4 separate regions of the Homo sapiens genome follow, and all the other regions are linked to region 1. Evidence: fine-mapped expression QTL. A gene starts in region 1. Each other region holds a variant in brackets. All regions are shown on one strand. Distances are between the middles of the regions.

The links.
Region 2: its variant is fine-mapped to the expression of TARS3 in cerebellar hemisphere (GTEx, PIP above 0.99). The same link has a PIP of 0.9 or more in uterus.
Region 3: its variant is fine-mapped to the expression of TARS3 in tibial nerve (GTEx, PIP above 0.99).
Region 4: its variant is fine-mapped to the expression of TARS3 in cerebellum (GTEx, PIP above 0.99). The same link has a PIP of 0.9 or more in gastroesophageal junction.

The regions. Positions count from the first base shown.
Region 1 is chr15:101,722,288-101,727,437 of GRCh38, forward strand. It overlaps TARS3 (threonyl-tRNA synthetase 3), which reads right to left and starts at 2,186. Exons shown (of 19, transcript NM_152334.3): 1 at 1,804-2,186; 2 at 806-877. The coding sequence starts at 2,100. RefSeq lists a silencer at 1,582-2,471.
Region 2 is chr15:101,656,326-101,661,475 of GRCh38, forward strand. TARS3 (threonyl-tRNA synthetase 3) reads right to left here. Exons shown (of 19, transcript NM_152334.3): 17 at 1,460-1,532; 18 at 597-711. Among named protein-coding and RNA genes, the nearest start is that of TM2D3, 6.5 kb to the left of the region's middle. The variant T/C (reference allele first, on the strand shown) is at 2,136.
Region 3 is chr15:101,701,362-101,706,511 of GRCh38, forward strand. It overlaps TARS3 (threonyl-tRNA synthetase 3), which reads right to left. Exons shown (of 19, transcript NM_152334.3): 7 at 4,322-4,386; 8 at 2,498-2,576; 9 at 878-1,024. Among named protein-coding and RNA genes, the nearest start is that of TARS3, 21 kb to the right of the region's middle. The variant A/G (reference allele first, on the strand shown) is at 3,032.
Region 4 is chr15:101,641,018-101,646,167 of GRCh38, forward strand. TM2D3 (TM2 domain containing 3) reads right to left here. Exons shown (of 6, transcript NM_078474.3): 5 at 4,070-4,145; 6 at 831-1,627. The coding sequence ends at 1,462. Among named protein-coding and RNA genes, the nearest start is that of TM2D3, 8.8 kb to the right of the region's middle. RefSeq lists a silencer at 266-425. The variant T/A (reference allele first, on the strand shown) is at 2,116.

The sequences.
Region 1 (5,150 bases):
ACAGAACGTGTACAGAGTCACACATTACAGCACTTACTTGTATACCATCGTACTCTGTTCTCTAGTTGTTTGTCCTGAGTCTGCCTGAATTCCTCAACCAGACTAACTTCTTTGGGCCTAGGTATTCCTTCTTCACTCCTACCAAATGTTGATGCTAGATAAATACTTACTGATTGTTTTAATGCTTTATATACAAAAGCAAAGTAGCTAGTTTCTCGAATACAAAAAAAAAAAAAAGACCGGGGGCGGTGGCTCACGCCTGTAATCCCAGCACTTTGGGAAGCCAAGGTGGGCGGATCATGAGGTCAGGAGATCGAGATCCTCCTGGCTAACACGGTGAAACCCCATCTCTACTAAAAAAAAAAAAAAAAAAAAAAAAAAATTAGCCGGGCTTGGTGGCATGCACCTGTAGTCCCAGCTACTCAGGAGGCTGAGGCAGGAGAATCGCTTGAACCTGGGAGGTGGAGGCTGCAGTAACCGAGATCATGCCATTGCACTCTAGCCTGGGCAACAAGAGCAAACCTCCGCCTTCAAAAAACAAAAAAAAACCAACCAAACAAAAAAAACCAACTCTAGTACTCTAGTAGCACAACTTAAATAGATTAAATACACGTGTTTATTAAACATGGGCAGCTCATTTCTCAAGACATCTCATATTTAAGGCTTGAAAAGTTTTAAATACACTAATGTGACCCAAATAATAATTTAATCAGTAATTTTTATTGGAAATCCTAGGTAATTAACTATATACACATATTTAAAATTACAGGTAGTATTTTATATTGTTTCCACAGCAACAACTTACCTCGCTGTCAGCCTCGCTTTCCTTCATTTTCTTCTTTTTCATGTCCTTGTCTTGGCTTTGACTAGGAGGAGGCTGAAAGATAAATTATAAATGACTCACATCAATGGCAAGAAAAAGCAACACATTTTAAGAAGAGAGTCATGCCAGCAGGCTGCAAGTGCCCCGTGTTTAGAGGCTCATAGCTGGGCTCTCCTGACCACCAGCTACAGCTCTCAGTGGGCAAGTCATTCTCCAGGGTTCAGTCCTTCCTGTCACACTGTTGCTAAGCACATTTAATATATTGTGCTCTTGAAAACCTTTTGTCCTGAACTTTAAACAAATAATGTGGCTGGAAAATGTGTGGTTGCTGCCCGCCACATCAAATGCACTATTTCCTGAAGATGTTGCTAGTTCACCGCAGCTGTCCTTCCTAAAGGACTGCAGAACATCTCAGCCTGAGAAGCTTCAGGACTCAGAAAGTATGATGTTAAAAGAAGATAATTTATCCTTTCTACAAATCATAAAATACTGTATTAAATAAAAATGTTAAATATACAGCTATCCTCTCAAGATGAACCACCAAAACAAGAGCACAAAAAGCGAAAACTTCTCGTCCAAAAAAAACCCAACAACAAAAAAGAACCAGAGGGAATGAGAGTTTACATACGCAGCTGTTAGTCTTTCTGACCAAGGAAAGAATGAGTTTTAAACACTCCAGCATTTTTTCAAACAAATGAAAACACTATTTCTGCTACTGAAAAAGATGCGTGGCAGGCTCTTTAATGGACGAATTGAGAAATCAACAGCATTTGGTTAAGTCTGGCGACTGCTGGAAATCCGGCGGCTCCCCAGGCCACACGGGACCACCGAGCAGGGCAGGGCGGGCCAGCCGCAGGGCACTGGGAGGGCACTCCCCCGGGGCGCCCCCGCACCTGCCCCCGCAGTTGAAAACCTTTCGGTGCGCACCGTCTCGGCCCGCCCCGCCCGCGTCCTCTCCAGTGTCCCCACCGCCCGGTTACCTGTGCGCCGGCCTCCTGCGCCGCCTCTAGCTCCGCGCTCTCCAGCGTGGCCTGGCGGCTCCGCTCCTCGGCGAGGCACAGCCGCAGGCTGCACAGGCGGTGGCGCAGGTCGCAGTTCTCGGCCCGGAGCTGCGCCACCTCCCGCGTGAGGCACGGCCCCTCCGCCTGGCAGCTGTAGGGCGCGTTCAGCTGCTCGTCCCTCAGGCGCTCGACCTCCGACCACAGCCAGCGGATGTCCTCCTCCTGCCGCTCCAGGCGCGACGCCACGGCCTCCGCCGCCAGGGCCTCGGCCGCCATCGCGGCCTCCCTCAGGCACCGACGCCGAGCGGGGTGCCCGCGACTGCGGCGAGGGCGACGCGGACACTCAGCGCACGGCAGAAGACAGGGCTCCCGGGAGGGGCGGGGCGATGGGGCGGGGACGGAGCCATGGGGCCTCGTTGGAGCCGAGGCCTACACGTTGCAGGGGCGGGGCGCTGGGCGGGGAGGGGCGGGGCCTAGGCCAGATACCCTGCAGGGGCGGGGCGGGGCGGGGCGGGGCCTGAGGCCAGATACCCTGCAGGGGCGGGGCGGGGCGGGGCCTGAGGCCAGGCCCACCTTAGGGTCACGGGCAGTGGGGAAATGGGGTCTGAAGGGCCTCCCCTGCCTTTCGAGGCCTGTCTAGAGGCTATTGGCAGTAGTTTTTAGTCCGTTGAAACGAAAATCTTCCAAAACCTTGCAAAAAGGCCATCGTCTGCGTTCTCCAAAAAGGCTTCACCCTTTCTTCCTCTTGAATTCTGGCAGTCACCATTCTTTTGCCTTGCAAACAGGTTCTAAAAAGTGGCCATTCATTATAAATGGACTTTCTGGCCTTTCGTGCCAAACTTGCCCAAGTACTGAGGCCTCTGGGCCAGGGCATATAGAAAATCGCTGTGAAATCTAAATCCGACCAGCACGAAATTACTGGCTCCTTGAGTCTAGGGCAAATGCCACATATATCTTTGTATCCCTCTTAACCATGAGCGTGAAACTTCCTGGAGCAGGAACAGAAATTGATTTTTATCACTATTCTTAGGGCTTAGGATGTGACAAACACTGTTCTAAACTCTGTAACAGTAGTAACTCCTTTAATCTTCATAACAGGAGATACTGTTATATCCGCTTATAGCTGGAGAAATTGAAGCACAGTGAGACTGTGTTACTTGACTAAGGTCACACAGCCACTACATGACAAAGGGGGAATCAAACTCAGATAGTCTGATGCCAGTTTCTACACACTTAACACTAGTACTTTTCAACTTTGGCAGAATTTAATTGAGCATGTCATATAATGTGATACAGGTAATAATGCCCTTATAAGAGTCCTGAAGTGGAAGAGCTTAGCTTGGACTGGTGTGGTTTGAGAAAGGGAGAAAATTTTGAGAAAGGGGAAAAGGTTTATTTTGCTCTGGAAAATAAAGGTTGGGAGATGTTAGCAAGGAGGAAAAGCAGGTAAATTCCACTCCAGGAGCAGAATCAGTGCAGGAGAAGGAGCGGAGGGGGACAAGCTCATTGGATTAAGCTAAGTGGAATCCCAAACAGCACCCAGGAGGAGATTCCATGAAGTATGTTGCTAACCAATATCACTGTATCTTTTTTAGTCCTTCCTCAGGAAGCCTCTGGATACAGTTACATAGGACCCACTGACTCCTCATTATTCATCATTTCTCAATCCACTGCCATGGAGTTTCTGCTTCTGCCATTCTGTCATGACCAACACATCACTGAATGTCATGGACCCACTTAAGCCACCCCAGAATTTCCTCGGGACCCTCTGGAATTTGTCTCTCTTGGGTCTCCATTCCCAATACCTAGGCAACCACCAGTCTGCTTCCTGTCACTATAGGTTAGTTTGCATTTTCTTGATTTTTCTACACATGGAACCACACCGTATGTCCTCCTTTTGTTTAGCTACTTTCAGTCGGCACAATAATTTTGATATTTACCTATGTTTGTGTGTATCTATTGTTCTTTTTTTCTGAGTAGTATTCCATTGTATGGATATACCATAATTTGTTTATTCATTTGTTGATGGAAAATTTGGGTTATTTCCAGGTTTTAGCTAGGATCACACAATACCCAGTGAGCCCATTGGGTTTCCAAACTCACACTGTAGTTATTTCGTCAGTTCCAGAATGCAGAGTTTGAATAGATATACTCCAAACTGGCAGAATCCCTACAGTGTTTCCCTGACCCTCGGACATAAGGCTATTATTCTGGTAGGAAAGGCCAAGCAGAAACCACTAGAACTTTATCAACATACAAAAATAATAAATCAAAAGTAATACTGCATTCCTGAAGGAATTGCACAGATTACTGTTGCCTTCAAGAACTTGAAAGATGCAGGGGTGGAGATTCTCATCACACCCCATTTACCTTACCTTACCATCCCATTTACATTTAGCCTATGTAGAAGACAAATGGATGTTAGAGAATTATAGTAGATTAATATAAATTTAATTAGATGGTGATTCCAGTTGCAGCTGCTCTTCCAGATATGATTTCATTGTTGGAGTAAATCAGCATAACCCCTAGCACCTGATATGCACCTATTGAGCTGGCTAATACTTCTTTCTTTATATCTATTAGTTAAGGGCTATCGAGCACCATTTTATTTCAGCTGACAAGGCTGGCAATACACCTTCACAGGGTATCACCACAAGACAATATAAACTCTTTAGTTTTATGTGATAATCTAGTCCACAAGGACTTTGATTGCTGCTGTATTCCATAGGATATCATGCTGGTGTCCTATCATTGATGATAGCATGCTGATTTTCCCTGATGAGCAGGAAATAGCAAATACTATAGTCACCTTGATAAGGCATGTGGAGGTGGTAGAGAAGGAAATATATCCCCAAATGTAAAAATTCAGAGGGCTGTCACCTCAGTGAAACTTCTAGGCATTAAGTAATTCAGAGCATTTAGAGATGCCACTTTGGAGGCAACATATACCTCATTTGGACATTATTTTTCTAAACCAATTACTATGTAACTCAAGACTGCCAGTGTTAAGTAAGACTGAGAACCTAACAAGATTCTGAAACAGGTAATGCTGCTATGCAAGCTACTTTTCTATGTGGGCCACATGAGCAACAGATCTGATGGTGCTTGAAATGTCTGTGGCAGATAAGAGTTACCCAACCTAGAGTGCAGTGGTAAGATCTTGGCTCATTGCAACCTCGACCTGCTGGGCTCAAGCAACCCTCCCACCTCAGCCTCCTGAGTAACTGGGACTACAGGTGCATACCACCATGCCCAGCTAATTAAAAAAATTTTTGTAGTGATGGGGTCTTGCTACATTGCCCAGGCTGGTCTTGAACTCCTGTCCT
Region 2 (5,150 bases), 66 kb before region 1:
ATATTTATTTCGCCTTCTACAGACTCTCAACTTACAAGAAATAGCAATACTGTGCCTGCAGTTATATCAGTGTTAGTTTCTCTTAATTTTGGAATCATTTTTAAAGCCTAAATTTTAGATTCTGCATCTAATTAGTCATATGCTAAAAGGACATTTTACTTTTCATCTAAATCTTTTCCTTTAGATCATTTTAAATTTGGGATCTTTTCTTTCTGTTAGTTTAATCCCAAAGTTTCCTAATAAGCCAGAAAAGTGAGGGAAAATATTACAGGCCTGTGAGGCTGAAATATAAAGTATATAATTCTACTGATGGGATCATTTTCAGAGTTGTTTTCGTTGTTTGCTTGCAATATGAACTATTGCTAGTAAAACTATCCCAGGGGATTCAGGTGAAACTTTACAACTCTTCTTCCAGCAAACAACAAAGAGTACCTAGGAACAGCTAAGCTAGGAATGCTATGGACTCTTCCTTTTGTGTAAGTATTAAATAGACAAATCATGATAATCAAGTAGTTGAACCATATTTCTTATTTGGTCTTTTGGAATTGAAGTGGGAAAAAAAAGCATTTGGAAAAATATATACAAACTTAAATTACCCAAAATAAAATTATACTGAGCCAGCTGTGCATTTCGTATTTTCTTATTTAGTGTACAACTGTGATCCAAGTCAACGTCAGCCATAAATCCTTCTTCAAAAAATTCACTGGATACCTAGAAGAAAATGAAACACCTTTACTGTTACATTATGGTACCTAGCCTCCAAGAAGACCCCGTTGTTCCCCACTCTTGGTATTCACACCTTTGTATAGTTCCCTGCTCACTATACCAGAGCGGGTCTGCGTGACCATAAAGAAGTGCGGAAGTGTCGGCGCATCGTTTCTGAGACTAGTTTATAAAAGGCTGCAGCTCCCATCTCTCTCAGATCACTTGCTCTGGGGGAAACCAGCCACCATGCAGTGAGGACATTCAGGCAAGCAAGCACCCAGGTGATGAGGAGCTGCATCCACCAACTGTGAGCGAGCCCCGAGCTCCGCAGCCCTGGCTGACAGCCTGACTGCAGCCCCAGGAGACGCTCTGCGCCAGAATCCACCAGCTGAGCTGCTCCCAGACCCTGACTCGTAGGAACTGTGAGATCATCAATGTTTGTTGTTTAAAGCTGCTAAGTTTTGGGGTCACTTGTGACACAGCAACAGATAATATTCTTCCCTAATAGAGCTGTGTAGAAATGAATAATTATGATATGTTTTAAAATACTAATTTCTCAAAAAACATTAAGAATGAAATAGTTCTGAGACAGCTGCAGAGACATGATTCGTGTGTTACTCCCACCTGCTGAAAACACGGTTTAAGCTAATGTGTCAGTTCTGCAATATTTTAAAGCATGAAGGACACTCCAAATCGATGACCTACACAGAATACATGCAAGATTATTATGTACTTTAAACACCTCTGATTTTACCTGAAGTGCATATTTTTCACAAGTTGGCCCCACAGGGATGACCATCACCTGACGAGGAGATAGCCAGAAAGGCCTGAAAAATATATATAAAATATGTATTTTCAAAGTGTAATAATGGCTACTTATTACATGATTTTCAAATAACCAAAGATTCTTTTAAAGACTTCACAAGAGGGCAGTTTCAGTAGCGCAGCATGGAAGAAAACTAAATTATATTAAAGTTTGAAGGCAGCAAAGTAAATGAAAGGAGAATTTTGGAATTTTGATAGCACAAGTGCAGGTAGAATGAGCTGGCAGACAGCCCAAAGGGCTGAGCATGCACTTACTGTCTGCCCCAGCAATTGCACTCCTGGCATTTGTCCCAGAGAAATGAAAGCGCAGGTTCACACACAATACTGCTCACTAACGTCCATAGCAGCTTTATTTATAATAGCCCCAAACAGGAAACACACACCCCAAATGTCCTTTAGCGGGTGAATGGCCAAACTGTGGTGCATCCACACTGTGGAACGTGGAACACCATCAGCAAAAAAAAAAAAAAAAAAAAGGAACCAACTAATTTATCTCGAAACAAAACAACATGGATGGCTCTTAAGGGAATTCCACTGAGTGAAAAAAAAAAAGCCTACTTCAAAAGTTTGTGTACTCTGTAAATCCATTTATGTAATATTCTTTA[T/C]ATGACAAAATGATGGAGCTAGAGAACAAGTTCATGGCTGTCAGATAGGAGGACAGGGTGGGATGGTTTGAGTGTGGGGAAAAAAGGGCAGCAGGAGGGAGCCTTACAAGTGATGGACTGTCCTGTGCCTTGACTGGTGGCCTTACACCATCTGTCCGTGTGACACAGCTAAATACACGTTCACACAAATGAGTGCATGTGAGGCTGGTGAAATCGGAACAAGGTTGGTGGACAGTCTCAATGTCTAGTTCTTGGCTGTGATATTGTATCTAGTTTTGCAAGATGTTACCATTGAGGAAAACTGGGTAAAGAGTGTGCTGGACTTCTCTGTATAACTTCTTTTTTATTTTTTTTGAGATGGAATCTTGCTCACCCAGGCTAGAGTGCAGTGGCGTGATCTCGGCTCACTGCAACCTCTGCCTCCCGAGTTCAAGTGATTCTCCTAGCTCAGCCTCCTGAGTAGCTGGGATTACAGCCATTGCCACCACACCCAGCTAATTTTTGTATTTTCAGTAGAGACGGGGTTTCACCATGTTGGCCAGACTGGTCTTGAACTCCTGACCTCAGGTGATCCACCCACCTCGGCCTCCCAAAGGTTGGGATTACAGGCGTGAGCCACCACATCCGGCCTCTATATAACTTCTTAGAACAACATGCGAACCTACAATTATTTCAAAATATAATTTTTCTAGAATAAAAAAGATGGCAGGGTAGGTATAAACAGTGTCCGCTGTGGGACATGTTTGCCCTTTCCCTGTCATAGTGAGTATTTAGTCTGAAGGTGAAAGGACATGCAAGGAGGACTATTTCAGATAGCATTTTATAAATGTGCATATTTATATATTTATTCTCAAATTACAAACACAAAACAATACATGATAAATGGTAGAACACAGAAATACAGGGTATATAATGGCAACTACATATTTCCTTTTGAGCTCTGTCCTTATCCCATCCCCAGCCCTACTCCTCTCAAGGACCCACACTTTAGCCATCTTTACTTTTGGCTCCTGGGGAGATTTCCCCACAAGGCTGACTGCTGTCTGAAGTCTGGATGTATGAAGTGCAGGGAGTATACTTCCGTCTCTGCGACAAAGGAAGGCATGCTCAGTGCACTGGCCCCAACCACCTCCTGTCTCCCTCTCCATCTCCTATTTCACTAGTTCTCTCTCTTTTCTTTAAACCACTTTCACTGCAACCATTCTAATGCAAAACACCATCATCTCTTACCTATGGTAAACTATTTAAAACCAACTGGAAAGAAATATAAACATGTTAACTCATACTCAGGCGGCATACATATTCATACCCATACTTTTGGCTTAACTGTAACTTCAACAGCTTAGAAACTCCATGATACCTAAGTATATTTCTCTATGATCACAAAATATCAGGAATATACACAGACTCTCTAGCTACCCAGGTCTTTTGGAAGACACTTTGTTTGGGAAACTTTCCACCTTATGTTTCCTGCTCAAAAATTTGCTTCCCCAGTCTCGCTGGACATGAATGGTAGTATGCATGGGTGTGATCTAGGTTCTGCTAATGTATAAACATGGCACTCTGACTTAAGACAGAGTGGAGAAGGAGGCACCACATGGAATCCATTATGGCAAGGAAAGGTGATGCAGAGACATGGAGCTTTTGGAGGAACTGGTTGCAGTGACCCTAGCAGTATCATCCGGTGCCCAGTGTCCACAGTGGGAGCTGCAGGGACTGTGCCCGGCAATAGTAGCAGTGGGGGCAGTAGTTTCTGAAGAGAGAGCTAAACTGCATGAGCAGATGCTTAGCCAATTTCTAAAAATGGAATGGGAGGTAGAAATTTCACAGGTGGTTGCTGGTTTGCAGCATTTCCACATACTAGGATACATCATCACAAGATGTTGTCTGCCAGCTGGTGCTATAACTGCTAGTAAAGCCACTTGCTTCTGAATGCATGGTGATAGTAGTGAATCCCTTAATGTCAGTGCAATGCTTTACTTATTTGCTATAAAATCTCTTTCATAGTCAGAAGCACTGTTGTGTTCCTGGCAGCACCTAAGTACATATTTGGTGCCACTGGCAGAAGCATGGCAGCAAAGAAGAGCAAAGCAAAATCCACAGTGAGTCTCTCTTCAGTGAGAATGAGGCATTGCTCCTTACATGATGAAAGGGATCCAACGTAATCAACCTGCTACAAGACCACTGGCTATTACCCCAGGTTATGGTACCATCCCGGGGGATCACAATTAATCACTGACTGATGGCAACCTGAATTCTCAGAAGAGATGTAGCCAGATGGAACTTAGTGAGGCAAAGTCCATGTCTTTGAGCCCATGCCTATCCACCAGTGGCCACTTTGCCCATGAGCCATTGAGCAACAACTAGGGGAAAAAGCAGCTGATTTTAACAGAATGGGTCCTCTTGTATTGGAATACTGAAAAATTCCTCAACAGCGGGGGCCTTTTGGTGGCAATACCACCTCTGTTGGCCCATTCTGAGTGATCATCCACATTTCTGCTTCCCAAATCTATGTAATTTGTTTTTCAATCTAATTAGTTCTAAATCTTTGACTCTGTGGCCAAAGCAGTAACTAGAGCCTGTGCATCCATGTAACTCCTTATCTCCGGCCATTCTTCCTTCCGGGCAAAAAGGACCACAGGATGCACCACTCAAAAAGGACCACAAGATGCACCACTCAAAAAAGACCACAAGATGCACCACTCAAAATTCTGCACTTTAGGACACTTCCCTTCCCCACTGTCATCCTAAATGGGCTGTGCTGCTGAGCCATCCTCTTTGAGTTTGTGCCATTTATGAATCAGGTTTACATGTTTTCCTCCTCAGTGGCTGTAGGGAACCCCAAAGGCAAACAATATGGGTTGAAGGAAGGATGGCTGGAGGGCAAGAGGTGGTACCTAGGAGTGTGGGTCACATGTTTTCAGGACAGCAACTAGATCTCTGAAGGGCTTGAAACAGGTAAAAAGATAACTTTAATTCTACCGAGTCCCCCAAAAGGTAAATGGTACAGTTTTA
Region 3 (5,150 bases), 21 kb before region 1:
CCTAATTAGCTTTGAACTTAGCTTTTACTTCACCTTCTGCTATTCTCTGCGAATTTTCTTACTTGGCACACTTGGAGTACGGCACTCATGGGGAGACAACACGGTAGAAAGACCAAAAAAGTTCATTGCAGGAGGTGGGCTTTAGGTGATGATGATCATCATGGCTGCTGCCTACTGAGAGCCTATCCTGTACCAGGCACCGTCACCCAGTTTCTGTCTTCACAGCCACCCTGCAAGGCTACCCAGCAAGGAAGACAAGGACACGGAGCTTGCCCATCATCTAACACAACTAGTGAGTACAAGGACTGGGCATAAAGCTCAGGCCGAGCTGCTTTCCAGTCTGAGCTTTTCCTTCTACACGCTGCTCTGTCTCCCAGATACAAAGGATGCTATAAAGTGCACAGAATGTAAAAAACAACTCTTTTTTTTTTTGAGACTGAGTCTCACTCTGTCGCCCAGGCTGGAGTGCAGTGGAGCGATCTCAGCTCACTGCAACCTCCGCCTGCCGGGCCCAAGTGATTCTCCTGCCTCAGCTTCCAGAGTAGCTGGGACTACAAGCGCGTGCTGCCACGCCTGGCTAATTTTTTTGTATTTCTAGTAGAGGTGGGGTTTCACCAAAAACAACTTTATTTTTTATCATGACAAAAATAAGAGAAGGGTACAATTTTCAAAAATTAATAAAAGATACAGGAAGGAAAGAGGTTAGAAGACATCTGGGGTATTAAAATGAAAGCACTGAGCAGCGGACTGTGAGTGCCAGCAAAATAGGAGAGAAGAAGAAGAAATCTTATTTTTAAAGCAACTTAGTTTTGTGAGACAGAAACATTCCTATGTTGGCTTATGATTACATCTCCAGTGATTAAGATGTGGGGCATACCTTCCCGATCTTCCTGTGATCTCGGTTCTTTGCTTCCTCTTGGAACTTTTCCCAGTCTCTCATCATCTTGTTATCAGGAAAGGATATTCCATAGATCCTCTGCAATGTTTCCATTTCCGGATTGCCCTCCCAATATGTTGAGGAATTCTAAATATCAAAGAGGATTTTGGTAAATATATCATACATTCAGTTGTAAGTAAAACTGCTCTTAAATACAAATGCAATTTTCCACTATCATATCAACAAAGCAGCCCTGCATGGTGGCTCATGCCTATAATCCCAGCACTTTGGGAGGCCAAGGTGGTTAGATCATTTGAGCTCAGGAGTTTGAGACTCGCCTGGACAACGTGGCAAAACCCCATCTGTACAGAAAATACAAAAACTAGCCAGGCACGATGGCACATGCCTGTAATCCCAGCTACTTGGGAGACTGGGGCAGGAGGACTGTTTGAGCCCAGGAGGTCGAGGCTGCAGTGAGCAGTGTTTGTGCCACTGCACTCCAACCTGGGTGACAATGCAAGACCTTGTCTCAAAATCAAACAAACAAACAAACAAAATCAACAAAGCTTAAAGAAGACTATTTGTAGTGCTGGGAACAATCTTAAAATGGATTCTAACTAAACCTTCCCAGCCTAAATTATACCATTAACCAGCAAATTATGTAGAGTCTGCTATGGATTCTAGGAATGACAGTGAGAGCACACAGAAAGGAGGGAAGGCTAAGCAGCAATCATAATCACCAAGGATGGGGCAGAACAGACAGTAGGTATGGGGAAGTAAAGGTCGGTCTTGCTGACCTACAGTCAATGATTAAGAACAGTGCCATTAGCCAGCCCCATTTTACCTGTAAGAAAATCAAAGCCAAGAAAGGCTGGGACTGCCAAGTCAGTCCCATGCCTCCTAATCCCAGAGCGATGTTTTCTCCATTACAACATCATATCCCCTCCTGCTGTTTTCTTTATGCCGCAATACATTACTTTCACATGCAGACAAATATTCTTGCTTACATCAGGGCTATTCAAGAAAACCATAGTATATAGAACAATATTTTAAAATAGTGTATGAAAAAGGCCAGGCGCAGTGGCTCATGCCTATAATCCCAGCACTTCGGGAGGCTGAGGCAGGCGGATCACCTGAGGTTAGGAGTTCGAGACCAGCCTGACCAATGTGGTAAAACCCCATCTCGACTAAAAATAGAAAAATTAGCCGGGTGGGGTGGTGCAGGCCTGTAATCACAGCTCCTCAGGAGGCTGGGGCAGGAGAATCGCTTGAACCCAGGAGGCGGAGATTGCAGTGAGCCAAGATCACACCACTGCACTCCAGCCTGGACAACAGAGCAAGACTCTGTCTCAGAAAAATAAAAAATAAAATAAAATATCGTATGAAAAAGAAATGTTATAACACTTACAATAAGGTAAAATGATAAACAAAAGCCACCTATAGTGTTCTAATTATCAAAATTCTAAATGATTTTATTAGTTTTCATCAAATAAGAATGAAATATTTTAAAATATCATGATGTTCAGACTACAAAAGATATGATTGAATAAGATATGATTAAAATCCTTTAATAGCTAGTGCACCTTAAGTTTACTGTATTAAAAAAAAATCAATCCTTACCTTAAAAATTTTGATGGTTTTAATTTTTCCAGTGTGTCTTACATGTGGACCTTTGCAAAGGTCAATTAATGGACCGCACCTATAATGAAATATTTAGGACATGCTCAGGCACAGTTACAGTGTTCTGGACTATTCATTATAAGCCATAATATCCTATGTTTTAGGTAGAGCTTCACTTATTTATATGTAGCAATGCCATTTTTAATTTAGGGTGAAGGAGAGAGGTGATTCATCTAGCCTCAGAGTCCACTCTGCCCTCTAGATTCAAAAACCACAGAACATCTTCTGAAAGAAACTAGGCAATTCTCTGATTAAAAACTTAAAAATTACAATGAATACAAAAAGGGACTGGCTTACAGAGTGGCAAACACGAAAATGTCATCTCTCTCAATGGTCAGTCTTTGTGTATTGTTCTCTAGGGAGAGAGCTTGTAAACAACACTCAGATGAAGGGAAGGAATGCCAAATTAGCATGAAAGGCTTCAATACTCTAATCTTTACATAGAAAGTCACAGGGCCGGGTGTGGTGGCTCAC[A/G]CCTGTAATCCCAGCACTTTGGGAGGCCGAGGCGGGTGGATCACGAGGTCAGGCATTCGAGACCAGCCTCGCCAACATAGTGAAACCCTGTCTCTAATAAAAAATATAAAAAATTAGCTGGGCGTGGTGGTGGGCGCCTGTAATCCCAGCTACTTGGGAGGCTGAGGCAGGAGAATCACTTGAACCTGGGAGGCAGAGGTTGCGGTGAACCGAGGTCGCGCCATCGCACTCCAGCCCGGGCAACAGTGCAAGACTCCATCTCAAAAAATTAAAAAAAAAAAAAAAAAGAAAGCCATAAAAGAAAAGCTTTATTTTTTTTTCAAAAATTAAATACAAGCCATTCAAATTGAAAAACTACAAAAAGTGTCAATGTTGACGTAAGTAAGGTTCTCAAACCCAAGAGCTCAAGCATTAGAAGCCAGAAATTTAAAACTTGGCCTGTTTTCTACATTTTCATTTATTTTTAAGCTTTAAGAAATGCACCGTGCATAGCTTTGCACAAAGGGGATATGATTTTACTTACAGTACAATTAAACCAGAGAACCATAAGTCCTTGACTGTCGAAAGTAAGTACCATGAGGGAGAATATCTGTGGTTATAATTAAATAAATACCAGGTCTTCTAAGGCGGTACTGTGATAGTCCTAGCAGCACCCAGATGGCCGGAACACACGGAAAGGGGAACAGCAATGACATATAAGGCGTATACACACGAATAAAGAAAAAGGTGCTCAGGAACCTGAGGTTAAATGAACAGAGCTAAGTGATTCTGGTATTAACTTCACTTGTCTCCTCTTACATTTGATCCTGCCTTTGTTTCCCAGTATTTTCTTTTGGTCTCATCATGAGTATCCTGCTAATGCATGAAGACTGTACACTTGGACTCTGGACAATGGGGCAGACTCTTCTACACTTGCACTCTGGACAGTAAGTATGAGGCAGAGAATCACTGCCGAGGAGATGGCTTGTAATGGCCCCCACTGCCACATTAATAAGAACGTGGAAGGACAGAATAGAAACTCCTTTCCCAACAGTATCACTCACATGGAGAAAAATCCTGTTATAGCTAACACCCAGGAAACAAAATATGGGTCTCAGTACTGTCCTGATTACTAAAAAGGGGAAAATAATCATTTCTCTTTAGTGAAAACATTTTGAAGATTGTAACTACGGTAGATTATCAACTACACAACTTGAAAAATCGATCTCCAACCAGAAAACAAACTCGGCCTCTACTGCTAACACCTTCAAGTTTACCACTGAGCAGCGTTTACCATGTGTGGACACAAACCTGTACACGGTGGTAGTTGCAGTGTTAACTTTCTCATTCAGAATGCGGCATTTAAATTTATTGTACTACGAAGAAAAACATATTTACACATTATTACACACAATGTTGAAATGAAGAAAACAACTCTACTTTTCTTCAAGAAACATTGAAAGGTCATCTACTGATGTTCTAGGTGCTGAGACACGAGGGATACAAAGAGCTCACAGCCTTGAGCGACACCGTGCAGCATGGAGGCCACAAGCCACGTGGCTACTGGGCATTTCAAATGCCATTAATTTGTGGTTGTTGTTGTTGTTTTTGAGACAGAGTCTCACTCCCTCACCCAGGCTAGGGTGCAGTGCCACCATCTTGGCTCACTGCAACGTCCGTCTCCCTGGTTCAAGCGATTCTGCCTCAGCCTCCCGTGTAGCTGGAATTACAGGCATGTACCACCATGCCTGTATTGTATTTTTGTATTTTTACTATGTGCTAATTTTTGTATTTTTAGTAGAGACAGGGTTTCACTATGTTGGCCAGGCTGGTCTCAAACTCCTGACCTCTAGTGATCCGCCTGCCTTGGCCTCCCAAAGTACTGGGATTACAGGTGTGAGCCACCACACCTGGCCTCAAATGCCACTAATTTGAAAGAAGATGTGCAGTGAGTATAAAACACACTGGACTTTGGAAGTATAATGTTGCAAAAAGAAGAAGAAAATCATTCGTTAATCATTCTTTATACTGGCTACCATTGAAATTATACTTTTTATATATTGGGTTAAAAATTTGTTAAAATTAATTGCAACTTTTACTTTTAAAATGTAGCTGCCATAAAATTATAGGTTACACATGT
Region 4 (5,150 bases), 81 kb before region 1:
TGCATGGTTGCTCAACAGGGAAGTATTAGATTCTCTTCTACACAGAGCTACATAAGGAGACTCAGGAGACATTTTTATTATAGTTAGCAAAGGGGCTACTTCTTGAAGAAAAGATCGTCTTCTAAAGAAACACCTGCTCAATCAACAGTTTAACGGATACAAAAAGTGTGTCTTTGCTCTCAGAAAGAAAGGTCCACATAAACCGGGTTACTCCCATCCTGAAGAACTGCTCATGCTCTGTGACAAGTTCCTCGTAAACAAAACAAAACAAAACCAGTTTTTTTTTCTGTTTCTGGAACTAGAATGGGGAAGCAAATGTAATGGGGATGCGCCACCTAGCGACGAGAGATGGAACTGTCACTCAACTAAGAAAAGGACTGTGCTTTAAACAGCAGCAAGTGATCACTGAAACCTTTCAGGTAAACTGAAATCAATAAATCATCTGCTGAATGAAATATGCAGATATTTTATAGCTTCTAGATATGATATGGTGGTTAACAGTCTTCTGGATAATACACACAAGTGTTTAAAAAGCAGTAACTCAGATACCCACATTTGAAAGAAAAAATGCTAAGTTTTTAAATGTTTCAAAAGCAAGCTTGAGTAAAAATCTTTTTGAATAACTGAGTTTTTTTTCCCCGATAAAGGGTCTATAACAGATCTATACTCAAAAACATTTATATATTTCCACTGTGTCAATAAACCAGCCAATTATGACTCTGTTAGAATGGAGTAATGCCCTGAAAGATAAAAATGTTATTCTTAACAATAAAGGTAAGTTGTAATGATTATTCAAGATTATATTTAATATAGAAAACAGGCCCACAGTATTTCTTAACTTGCAATTTTATTAATTTTTCAGTACTCTTACCTTTTATATACTACTAAGAAAATTTAAACCATAACTAGACATAAACATTCTGCAGTTTAATTCAAATTTTCATATATACAGACCAGACTACATATGTATTACACTGCAAAACTTACACATGACTGAAGCTGAGCCTAATAACTTCAATTAGCCAACAACAGAAACACTCCCACTTCCTGCAGTCACAGCAATTAGCTAACAATAAAAACACTCCCACTTCCTGCAGTCACAGCTGAAAGACTTTTCAAGGCAGACTACATTTGGGCTGGAGATACAAGTGATGTAGTTTGACTTGGGCAATACAAAACAAAAGTCATAGGAATTAAATGGATTTTCAATCACTGTATAATTCATTCTCCTGGCTTAAGTACGTTTTAATTTTTTCACAGAAAAAAATATATTTCAGGCAAATAAAAACAAATTCCAGATTAGCATAGTTCAGCGTTTCATTTATCTTACCTTTATCAAGGCAAACAAAGTACAGATGCTGTACATTAAAAACATAGAAATATATCACTCACACCACATCAACTCCTACGGACAAAAGGGCTTTTTCTAAGCCCTGCTCCTTTCTGAAGCACACACCACAGCTAAATGTACAAAGAGCCATCTGCTGGTCCAACATAGCCAACTCCAATGAGCAGGACGTCTATCAGCGTCCATATTCCCAGGCCACCGAAGCTGAAGAGCTTGCCGAGGCCTTCCCGCCACTGGCCCAGGTAGAAACGGTCTGCTCCAAACCCACCGAGGGTGATGCTGCGATGGCAAACAGACAGGATTCCATGAGACCACCTCCACCCCAGCTGTGGCCAGTCACGGTTTAATCACCACATTATGTCAGATTTGAGAAAGGGCTTCCCCTGATCGTAGCCCTTAACTGGAACACAAGTGACTATTTCACAAACTGACACCACCAAATAATTACGGGCAGGAAGACAGTTTAAATGTCAAAAGTAAACATACAATTTTTAGCTGTACTAAAAAACCAATGTTTTCTTTTTTTAAAGTTATCAATCTCATTGCTTTTTAGTCAAAATAAAGCAAAGACCCAGTCTAACAGGAAGTGCACTAACACGGGGTCAGGGCTGGAGTCAGGAGGAGCTCACCACCACCTGGACGACCTGGATCAAGTCATCCATGTTTTCAGTCTATTTTTTCATTCATCTCTAAAATCTTAATGTTAGGAATAAATCCTTAAAAGATTTAAGGATCTTTTAAATTCTAAGATCTAATAATACTGAAAC[T/A]ATATTATGGAAAATTTCTAAACACCTAACAATAAAAAGTAAAGAGAACAGTACCCATGACTCAGCTCCAATAATCAACACTTGGCCAGCTGTGTTTCATCAAAACCCTCCTCTTTCCCCTCCAGAGTACCCTGAAGCAAACCTTGGGCATCATCTCATTACAGTGATGATTTTAAAAGAAACCATGTTGCCGGGCGCGGTGGCTCACGCCTGTCATCCCAGCACTCTGGGAGGCTGAGGCAGGCGGATCACAAGGTCAGGAGATCCAGACCATCCTGGCTAACACGGTGAAACCCTGTCTCTATTAAAAATACAAAAAATTAGCCAGGCGTGGTGGCGGGCGCCTGTAGTCCCAGCTGCTCGGGAGGCTGAGGCAGGAGAATGGCGTGAACCTGGGAGGTGGAGCTTGCAGTAAGCCGAGATTGAGCCACTGCACTCCAGCCTGGGTGACAGAGAGAGACTCCGTTAAAAAAAAAAAAAAAAAAAAAAAGCAAAAAAAAAAAAAAACCATGTTGAGTGCTGAGAAGTTTTAATTGTTGAAAGTATGTTACAGTATAGTACTGTAAGAGGTTAACAATGTAGGGAAACCAGGTTAGGGGTATATAAGAACTCTACTATCTTTGCAACTTTTCTGTAAATTAAAATTATTCCAAGTTTCAAACATTTATTTATTTTTTTAAAAAGCCAGTTGTTAATTTGAACCATTGTCAGCAATGGTTACTAATCTTTTTTTTTGAGACAGAATCTCACTCTGTCACTGAGGCTGGAGTGCAGTGGTGCAATGCCAGCTCACTGCAGCCTCCTCCTCCTGGGCTCAAGTGATCTTCCCATTGCAGCCTACCACGCAGCTGGAACCACAGACATGAACCACGATGGCAGGCTTTTGTATTTTTGGTAGAGATGGGGTTTCACCATGTTGGCCAGGCTGGTCTTGAACTCCTGACCTCAAGCAATCCGCCAGCCTCGGCCTCCCAAAGCGCTGGGATTACAGGTGTGAGCCATCGCGCCCGCCCTATCTTATTTTTGTTAGTCTCATTTTCTATCCTGGCACCCTCTTTTACTTTTCAGTTACACTTTTCCTGCCAGGCAAGATCCTTCTTTCCTCAGCTCAAATTCTAATGCAGTGGTTCTCAGCAAGGGGCAATTTTGTCCCCTAGGGGACACCTGGCAACATCTGGAGACACACTGTCACAGCTGCAAGGGATGGGGGGTTTGCTACTGACAAGTAGTAGGTAGAGGCCAGTGATGCTGCTCAACACCCTGCTATGCACAGCACAGCCCCAAGACAAAAACTCATTCAGCCCAGAACGTCAGCAGTGATGAGGCTGAGAAATCCTGCCCTATGGCTGCAATGCTGCAGGCCTCAGGGTCTCAGGCACGAACTCAAAACTTCAAGTGTAGGCAGCGTAACCTTTTCACTAATCAGTTAACCAGGGTCTTACCTGCCCTTCCCTTTGGTGGGAAGAACTGCTATAATTTCTTAAAGTACTGTTGAGAAGTTTAACAAACAGCACATTTCTATGTAAGAAATATAAGCCTATAATTATCTGCTGCTGATGAAATTATAGGTAATTTTTAATGTTTTTGTCATTTTCATTTTTCCAGTTTTCAGTGTTCATCATGTATTACTTTTTATAATAGTTACTTAAAATTAAAGATATACATCATAAAACTGCCTATTTTGGATAGTCCACAGCATTTTACTGATTCGTGGTACATTCAGAATGGTAAACGTAATGTGCAGGCATCTTGGGAGAAAAGCTAACATGCCTGCCAGTCAACTCCACGGAGGTACTGGTCTGATCATCTAAACTCTTCCAGCTGTTTGCTAGAGTCTAACACACGTGGTAGGATCTGAGTGAAGAATGAAGGGGACTGAGCTCAATGTCTGAAGATTCCACCAATCCCAAAGAAATGCAAACGGCCTTTTACACTTACGAGTAACAAGGCTTACCTTAGAGCCAGAGCCGTAGACCACTTATAGCCTCCAGTCCAATTGCAATATAGCATTTTGGGAAAAGTACGGTTACCTTAAAAAAAAAAAAGAAAGAAAAATACAGGGTATAAAAAATACTCTCAGAAAGACTTAATTGTAACAAATGGGCTCAAAATTTAAAATGTGAAAAGTCAACTCTCTTTACGGTAATACATGTTGAAGTGAAGAGTACAAAGCGCTTACCATCTATCTACATAGATGTAATATTTAAATCAGCTAAGTTAGGATTACAACGTGAGGAACATGAAATGCTCACCCACATATCAAGACCTACGGGGAAGTTACGAGTATATAAGACAGTGTAGTCTTGAGGCATAAAAATCACCCAATAGGAAAAGAAGAGAAAGTCAAGAACCAGAAATATACAAACACTTCATGTATGAGTGTTATGACAGAGGTCACACACGGATCAACAGGGAAGAGTTGAGACAACTGGCCATCCATGTGGGGGGACAATTAAAGTAGAATCTACCTCACACCATCTACCAGGACCAATTCCAGGTGGATTCTAAACCTAAATGTGAAATGTTATACTTACAACTTTCAAAAGAAAATGTAGCAAATTGTCTTTATTAACCTGGGGTAGAAAAAGATTTCTTAAAACCACCACAAAAAAGGACTAACTCTAATAACTTCCAGTAATTATATTTTTAAAGTTCTGTTCATGAAAATATACAATAATGCAAAAAAAAAAAAAATCAAAATCTGGGAGAGGGTTTCAGGGACAGCACAGGTAATATCCAAAATATAAAAGAAGTCTAGACAACTTTAAGACCAAATTTAAGAATAACCACTCTTGGAGAGAATATGGCTCATCAGGAACAGTTACATAGCGCGGGTGGGAATGCCAGTCAATACAGCCATTTAAAGAATGACACACGCTGGAAAGTACATGCTGAAGAAGCTCTTGCACCTGTGCCATTGGGAGACAGGCAAAGAAATTTGAACAGTCACAACAGCGGAAAACAGCACTTAACCAAATATATTGGAGAATAAACTGTGATACAATCTTACAATAGATTATTACACAGAAGTAAAA